Regions from separate parts of the Homo sapiens genome. Here region 1 is linked to region 2. Evidence: fine-mapped expression QTL. Tissue or cell type: monocytes after R848. Region 2 holds a variant in brackets; the other region holds the start of a gene. All regions are shown on one strand. Distances are from middle to middle.

Region 1 (4,000 bases), 23 kb before region 2:
AATTAAAAAGTCAGTTCAATAAGCTGAGAGGGTAGCATCCTAAATGAAGTTGTTGTTGTTGTTGTTTTAACAGTTTTAACGTTTGTGCAACAAATAATTGAACAGGGTTTGTTTGTTTTTTTTCTTTTTAGAGGATCCAAAGGTATAGGTAAGAATGACAAACTCTTAATCAAACAAGGAAGGGGCAATTTCACAGAATATTGCCACTGTTCTCTGAAAACAGGAAGAGCACAGACGTGTAGAGAAGTAAAACCAAATCAAACCGCATGCACAGGGCTTCACTGATCATGACTGGAGTGCATGTTACATTCTCTCTAAAAGCCCCTCCGGTCTTCATTTCTGACATCAGGTTCTAAAGTCAGAACACTACGGTTCCATTTTGCCCTTAGACACACCGGTATGAAGTTCCACTGGGGGAACAGTGCCAAGCATTCAACACCCTGACTGATAAGCAATATATTCAGAAGTCAATCCAAGTCTTCAAGCTGATCCCCTTCCTGGTGGCCCAGACCATGGCAACTCTTCTGTGCATTTGTTGCCTCCTTTACCCTTTGGGACTGGGGGAGGAATGAGATGGGTGAGAGGGCAGTGAGGGCATGGAGATTGGAAAGAAAAAAAAAATGTGTACTTTAAAATTCTGAAATAAAAGGTAGTGTCTAAAAACTCAACAACCTTCTTGGAAGATTTCATGCATTTCTTAAAATTTCCCCTGTCACTGCACCCCCAGCAAACATGCTGGTGGTGAAGGTCCGGGAATTCACACAAAGGGATGCAGTTACCATATGCCCTGGAGAGGTGAACTTTCACCCACTTAAACAGAAAAGAAAAGCCCGGAGTTCCTCTCAGAGTCATGGGCTAACCTCCATCCATTGTTAGACGGTGGAGCCCCAGAGGGGAGTAAGGCCACGGCGCCCCCCAGCCCGGCATTTCCACCAGCTCTACAGTGAATGAGCAGTCGGCCAGCCTTCCGGTGGCGCCTCCACGGTTCCTCCTCCTCGTTTCCTAACACCGGCGCCTCCACAGCAGGTCTCGCCACCCGAAAGCTAACATGCCCCTTCGCAGAGCCCAAAAATAGCACCGCCCTGGGACGTTCAGCTGGAGAACCAGCAAGGCCCCTACACGGCCAGGCAGGGCTAAGCTGGCGGAGCGTGCCTCAGTTTCCCTGTTGCTAGGGCCGTTCACAAAGCACCCAAAATGCCTAGCACCCCGCTTTACGACAAATCTCTCCGCAGGGCGCCACCCCGTTCCGCGCGCCCCGGGAGACCCCCACCCTGGAGGTAAAGGGATGGAGGCCAAAGCCAGGTCGGAGGACTCGGGGGCGGTGCCCGGGGCTGGGGTTCGGGTTCCCAGAGAGAGCCAGAGCCCAGCCTGTATGGGGGTCGGGAGGGTGAGCCCCAGGAGCAAAGGGATCCCCGGGAAGGAGGACAGGCTTGGAGTCCCGGGGCCGGGAATCCATCTGAGGTCCGCAGATCGCGAGGGGAGACCCGGGTGAGGCAGGAGCTCCCATCCTTGGAGGAAGGGGATCGCCCAGGGACAGCAGGGTGGGGAATCCCCAGGGAACTGATCCCTGGCCAAGGTGCGGGATCCACCCAGGATGAATCCAGGTGAGGAGCCGGGAGCCGTGCGCTTAACGGCGGGATTTGGGAACCCGCTTCTGACACGGGCAGCGGGACCGGGACGCCATCCCTCTCACCGCTGGAATCGATTCTTGAACCGCATTGATCCTCTGCTCCTCCTCGGGGGCCAGGAGCTCCGTCTCGTCAGCACCGGCGGCCGGGCGCGCGGCCCTCATGGGCTTGGGCTGCTCCGGAGGCCGCCTGCGTGTCCAGCGGAACCCTTCGGCCGGGTAGGGTCGGAGTGGGCCAGGCCGGGGGTCGGGACAGGGCTGGGGCCAGACCGGGCGGCTGGGGGCGGGAGGGAGGCCGCTTCAACGGCCCCAACACCTCCCGCCTCCCGCCTCCCGCCTCCCCGGCTCCTCCGCCCCGGGGCTCCTGCGCCCCGCCCCGGAGCCCGGCTCCGCCCCCGCCGGCTCTGTTCGCCTGCGTGCACCCGCGGTCGCCGGCGCGTCAGCGCGCCGGTCAGCCAATCGGCACCCCGAGCGGCGCGGCGGCTACGCTGCCATTCATTCCCGCCGGGCTCGGGCAGCGAGGCGGGGCCTCGCTGGGGAGGGGCGGGGCGAGGGGAAGGGGAGGAGCGCGGGAACGCGGCGCCCTTCTGTAAGAGACAAGTTGGAGAAGAGATCGAGGGAGGGAGAGAAGTGGTGAAGGAGGAGATGGACCAGGAAATCTTAAAAGCATTGTGAAGAAAATAGCAGCAAACAAGCAGCCCTACCTCATTCATTTTTTCTTCATCATTAATTTCTCCATCCCTCCTTTCATTTATTCCTTCATCATTTTGAGGGCCAGCTCCCGCGAGGCTATTGTGAGAGGATCCAGGGCAGAATGAAAAACCTGTCCTTGTCTGACCCTTGAGGGAGTTGAGATCTCTGAGCGTCTTCTAACTCTGAGATTCAGTGAGATCCACAAAAGGAGGAATCCTCTGCAAGGATCCTTTTATGTTATCCTCCAGTTTATTTTTTATTTTATTTTATTTTTATCCAGGCAGCTTTCAAATAAACGAGTTGACTTGAATCAGGGTCCTGTCGCTAAACCTAAACTCAGAGGGCTTCCTGGAAGAGAAGTTCAAATAAAAATGAATGAATGGGCCAGGTGCTGTGGTTCATGCCTGTAATCCCAGCACTTTGGGAAGCCAAGGTGGGCGGATCACCTGAGGTCAGGAGTTCGAGACCAGCCTGGCCAACTTGGTGAAACCTTGTCTCTACTAAAAATACAAAAATTAGCCGGGAGTGGTGGCGGGCTCCTGTAATCCCAGCTACTCGGGGGGCTGAGATGGGAGAATCACTTGAACTTGGGAGATAGAGGTTGCAGTGAGCCGAGATTGCACCACTGCATTCCAGCCTGGGTGACAGAGTGAGACTCTGTCTCTCTCTCTCTCTCTCACACACACACACATACACACAGAATGAATGAATGGGTGATTTGTCGAGCCTTTCCAGGATCACTGATGGAAGTTATATGTGTTCCCTTCCAGGTATCGTGTCCATACCCAGCCCCCAGCCTGCAGGCTAGAGACTCTGAAGTGGCATGAGGCCAGCCTGCTAGGAGTGCTCATTCGACCTACAGTAAAGCATTGGAAAGCCAGGGAATTCTGTCACCCATAATTCTAGTTCCCTTTCCTTGAACCTTCCAGAGAGGTGCTTTCCATGCTTCAATCTTCCCAAGAGCTCCTCCAGATGGGCATTATCCAACTTATTTTACAGATAAGGCTGAGGCTTATAGTGGTCAATAAACTTGCCAAAGGCAAAAGTAAGGCTCCTACCTACCTTTCGCTAACTTTAAAGACCCACCTCCTTTCAGTACGTCAGACTATCTCTCCCTGTTTTAAAGCAATACACTTCTCTAAAACAAAACAAACAAAACAAAACTTCATCTACCCGCACCCTCAACACTAAATCGGGAAAATGAACCTGGAATGAAAGTCTGCTTCTTATCAGCTATGTTGGGCCACTGGGCTAAAACATCAGTGCGGGAGGGGAAGGTAACAAAGGAGATAGCTAATAAAGATAGATGAAAAATAGCCATGTGTAATAACATAAGAAGGGTTAAAAAATAAAACAAGGAAGCTCAATTGTAACAGATGTACCACACTGTTGGGGGATTTTGATAACAGGAGAGGCTATGTATGTGTGGGAAATCCCTGTACTTTACTCTCAATTTTTGAGTGATCCTAAAACTTCTCTGGAAAAAAAAAAGTCTTTTTTTTTTTTTTTTTAAAGGGCCAGGCACAGTGGTTTGCACCTGTAATCCCAACACTTCGGGAGGTCTAGGTGGGAGGATCGCTTGAAGCCTGGAGATTGAAACTAGCCTGAGCACCAAAGCAAGAGTTCATCTCTAACAACAACAACAACAAAATTAGCCAGGTGTTGTGGTAGGCACCTGTA
Region 2 (4,520 bases):
GGACTTGCCTTTGGCCCGGATTGGCTCTCTTTAGCCAAGACAATTCCTGAAGAGGACTGAGAGCTGAGGGCTGTCTTCCCATGCAGCATTCCCAGCAGCTTGGGAAACAAATCCTTCCTTTATTCCAGCAGCGTGATCTGGGAAGTGCCTTACAACCTCCACTCCATAAGGTGTCACTTTTGTTAATACTAAGTTACCATTTATCAGATGCCAAGCAATAAGCTTGCTTATTTCATCCTCACAGTAGCCTTATGAGGTTGGAGTTATTAGCTTAATTCTGAAGATGACAAAACAGAGACTCAGGGAGGTTAAGACGATTTCCTAAGGCCCCACAGCAAGCAAGGGATCAAGCGGTGATTCCAACCTTGGTTTTCTGACTTCAAAGGTTTTCTGATTTTCCATTACACCAGCATTTCCCAATGTGTATTCCTCAGAACAGATGTTAATAGGTGTTACATAAAAGAGAGAACAAAGACTGTCAAAAGGCTTTTGGAAATCTTGCGTTAAACATAAACAAGTTGTCTTACAGTAGTTCTTCTCAGAACCCTTAACATGCTAACACACAGCGTGACTCTGCAAGAGAGATATTAATGTGCATTACTTCCCAACCTCATTTAAAACAGAATTGCTTTGTTGCAGCTGATGATGCATTGGGACATGATGCATGGCCCTGATCAGTCTCCTTCTGAAGGCTCTTTCCATGGGAAAATTGAAGATGGGATAATTCTCCTTTAAAATGTGCAGTCCTTAAGGAGTCTGACAACTCCTTGACGCTCCTCCACTTTCTCTCTTGCCAGGAAGGAAACTTTCACAGGGCTTTCTTACATAAGGAATGGAATGTAGAGTTTACACTTTGTTGCCTTTGGTCCTGATTTAGAAATAACCAGTGCAGGATGTCCTGGTTGGAGGATGGGGATAGAGAAGCGGGTTAGCCTCTGAGCAAGCCTTGCACTATCATGCTGGTATAAGGAGGCCTTTCCACATCCCCATCCAAGCTTTGCCATGGCCAGGTCCCCATTTCCCATAGCTGATGTTCTGGATGGGGGTTGTCAGGGACTCCCTCTGCACCAGAGGCTCTGGTTTTAGTGCTACATCTTGAAGTTGACATGTATACTGTATATAATTTAAAAACTTACAATGACAACAAACAATACTGGCAACTTTAAATCCCCTCTAAAGAAGGTTGGAGATGCCTCCATTGGGAATATTTTTTAGTGTTTTATTTTAGGTTAGTTTGTCTGTAAAATAAAGATGAAAAATCAATCACAATGCAAAGTTACTTTTGCTAAAAACCTTTTCTTTAGCGAGAAAATGCTGAGGACGGGCAGAGGGTGGGCAGGCAGATGGGAGTACAGCCTTCTGCTCTGCGGCTGGGCTTATTACCCAGGTCTGCGGGTCGCCTGCACCGCAATTTGCCTCCAGGCAAACTTCCACCTGAAATGTAGGGTAATCGAGGCCTGCCCGGAACTTGTGGAAATCAAACCAAGGGCTCAGTTTCAACAATTCTGGTAGAGGATTAGAATCCATGTCAACTCTGTTACCAGAAGGATGGCCTTGAGTGTACGATGTCCAGGTTCTTGGCGTTTTGAACAAAGAACTGGACAAAATGCAAAGCAAAGTAACGAAGATGACACAGGAACAAAGAGGCAAAAACAGGAATTTATTAAAGCGAGAAAGCACTCCACAGGGTGGGGGTGGGCCGGAGCAAGCGGCTCAAGGGCCTGGTTACAAAGTTTTCTGGGTTTTAAGTGTGCCTTTTGAGGTTCTTATCCATTACCCCTTATCTGGATGAAGGATTTGGTCCGTGGCTAATTAAAGGCTGAGGTGAATTGGTTCTCTGTGCAGATGAAGGGATTGTCCCTGCTTGGCCTGAGGCCAATCCAAGGCACTCTCCCTTTACGTCTGAGACGTGGTGGAAGAAGGAGGGTTGTAGGGAGAGTAACCTTTGACCCTTTGCTACTGGGGCTTGGGGAGATGGGGTTTTACCTTTTGGTTTAGCTTTATGAAGTTTGCATTAATTAGCCTTAGGGTCCCTGCCCCCAGACCCAGGTGTTTTCCTTTTGATCCACCTTTGGGAAGTCAGCATGGATTGACCTTAGACTCCCTGCCCCCAGACCTTTGTGTTTTCTCTTTTAGAAAGTCAGCACAAATTGGCCTCAGATTCCCTGCCCCCAAACCTTGGTGTTTTTCCTTCATTCAACACGAATTGGCCTTAAGTTCTCCATCTCCAGACCCTATTCTCCTGCCTCTTAACCACGGAAAGGTGCTGGCCTGGTCACTTGCTAATCTTAGGATGGAAAGACTCTTTGTTGGGTATGATTTTGGAGACTGAACAGATTTAAGCAGAATTCTTGTGCACCCCCCTCACCAATCTCACTT[C/T]TGCTAACATGTAGGTAGTTGAAGATTTACAGAGTGTATTTCCTACTCTTGGTGGAAAATGAAATTCAGGAAGTGAAGGTTGAGACTTGAACTTAGCATGCCAATCCTGACCATTTCTGGCCTGAGGGATGACTCACCCTTTAAAGTTTCCCCAAATGTCCCCCTGCTCCAACCCTGAACGTCCTGCCTCAGATCACAAGGGGTCTCAGCACTTGGTTACCAGATGAACAGACTCCTAGGGTGGAAGGAAGGCAGGGAGCAGCTATGGGGGATACTTTTAAAGTAAGACCATATAAAACTTTAGAAGGAAAGTGATTTGCCCAGCCTTGAGAGACTTTCTTTAAAAAATTCATAATTGAATAAAATAGAACAGATTGGTTGTGAAACCGATTATTTTGAGTGCTGGTTACAGCAAGTCTAAGTTGGAAAAGATCTTATAATTTTGTGAAACTCTTAATTTCACAAGAGAAGGGCCCAGAGAGGTAAAAATTATGTCTCTTAGGCCCCACAGTCGTTAATTGTAGAGGATTGAACAAATGTCTAGATATACTCAGACCACTTGACTGCTTCCCCTTCCTACCATCAAAACAAAATGAACTGACCCCTCAATCAAAAACTGAGATATATTCTGGTAGGAATGACATCATTTTATTATTATAAAACTTCCTAAAAGGTGGAGTTTCAGCAATAGCAGTAACTGCATTAATGAATATTTAAGAAGTAATAAAGGGAAGGCTTGAATTGTGTGAACCACGAAAGCACTAAATAATCTAGAATTCAGGTAGGGGTTTTTGATTATAAGCTTGCATCAGGTCTGTTTTTGGCATTTCTTGGAAATGAAGTAATTCACTGCAGGCTTGTCAAGAATTGGTCTTGGGGCCGGGCGCGGTGGCTGATGCCTCTAATCCCAGCACTTTGGGAGGCCGAGGCAGGTGGATCACCTGAGGTCAGGAGTTCGAGATCAGCCCGGCCAACATGGCAAAACCTCATCTCTACTAAAAAATACAAAAATTAGCAGGCGTGATGGCGTGCACTTGTAATTCCAGCTACTTGGGAGGCTGAAGCAGAAGAATTGCTTGAACTCAGAAGGCAGAAGTTGCAGTGAGCCAAGATTGCACCACTGGACTCCAGCCTGGGCAACAGAATGAGACTCTGTCTCAAAAAAAAAAAAAAAAAAATTGCTCTTGACATGGTCTCATGTTCTCTGCTTGAGAAATCTCCATTATATAATGGAATATTTTGAGTAGCAAGGCAAAGTGACTAGGAATGACAGCTTGCTTCAACTGCTGTCTGATCCAGGGCAAGCTTTTCAGTTTCTTCATCACTGAAGTGAGAAGAATATTACTGACTATCTCATAGAGCTGTGGAGATTAAATGAGTTGCTAATATAATGTCTTAACAGCCCTGCCTGGCACTAGTACACACTCTGTAAAGATTAGCTGTTATTATTACCAAGAAAGGTTGCAGTACTTAAACTTTCTTAAGTGGTCTTTTGATAAAGATCCCCAGGACATGGTAAGAAAAAGGACGGTTAGTCTCTGTATGTAATGGTGATAGACAGGGAAACAACAACCACAAGAAAATCTCAGATCAGTGATTTCTGTTGGAGACCAGATTATTCAGTACCGAGACTGGAAAGAAGGAGTGTCTCTCCTATCAGGTTTGGGGTTAAAGTTTCAAATTGTAATTCAATTCATTAAAACATTGCCAAATATGGCTATTGGACAGGTATTGTGCCAAATACCCAGGAATGGGAGACAAGGATGGTGAGCTTACACACTACAGTCTAGTGACCTGGAAAATTCCATGACACTGGCTGAAGGGAATCACTCTATTTACTCTCGTTATTGCTGTTATTTGTAAGCTTCCAGAGCTTTATTTATTTTTCTTTTAGTTCTTTAATTATTCTCAAAGTTCAAACAGAGTTAGATCCACAGGATAAAACAGCAGATAAGGCCATCTACAGAAGGGACTTACGAGGATGTGGCTAGATAATATTCAATGAGTGATGTGTTAACATTCTTTCCACCCATCCAGTTGTCATCTGAAAAACAACCTCAGGTCAGGAAATTAGCTCAGGGTAGACATGAGAAGCTAAGGTTTCTTCATAGGAGGTTTTTGCTTTGTCTGGAGATCAGTAT

Alleles and levels. Positions count from the first base shown, and alleles are read on the strand shown. Sizes are in standard deviations (SD) of each study's normalised expression.
As copies of C replace T in region 2, the expression in monocytes after R848 of the gene that starts at base 1,859 in region 1 goes up (moderate effect, 0.70 SD a copy in Quach 2016).

What was found. PIP is the estimated chance that this variant, and not a neighbour inherited with it, causes the effect.
Region 1: it holds the start of MMD, and the variant in region 2 is fine-mapped to the expression of MMD in monocytes after R848 (Quach 2016, PIP 0.95). The same link has a PIP of 0.9 or more in monocytes after Pam3CSK4.

What each region holds. Positions count from the first base shown.
Region 1 is chr17:55,419,977-55,423,976 of GRCh38, forward strand. MMD (monocyte to macrophage differentiation associated) reads right to left here and starts at 1,859. Exons shown (of 7, transcript NM_012329.3): 1 at 1,694-1,859. The coding sequence starts at 1,719. RefSeq lists a silencer at 1,800-2,259.
Region 2 is chr17:55,442,692-55,447,211 of GRCh38, forward strand. No RefSeq gene overlaps it. Among named protein-coding and RNA genes, the nearest start is that of MMD, 23 kb to the left of the region's middle. The variant C/T (reference allele first, on the strand shown) is at 2,380.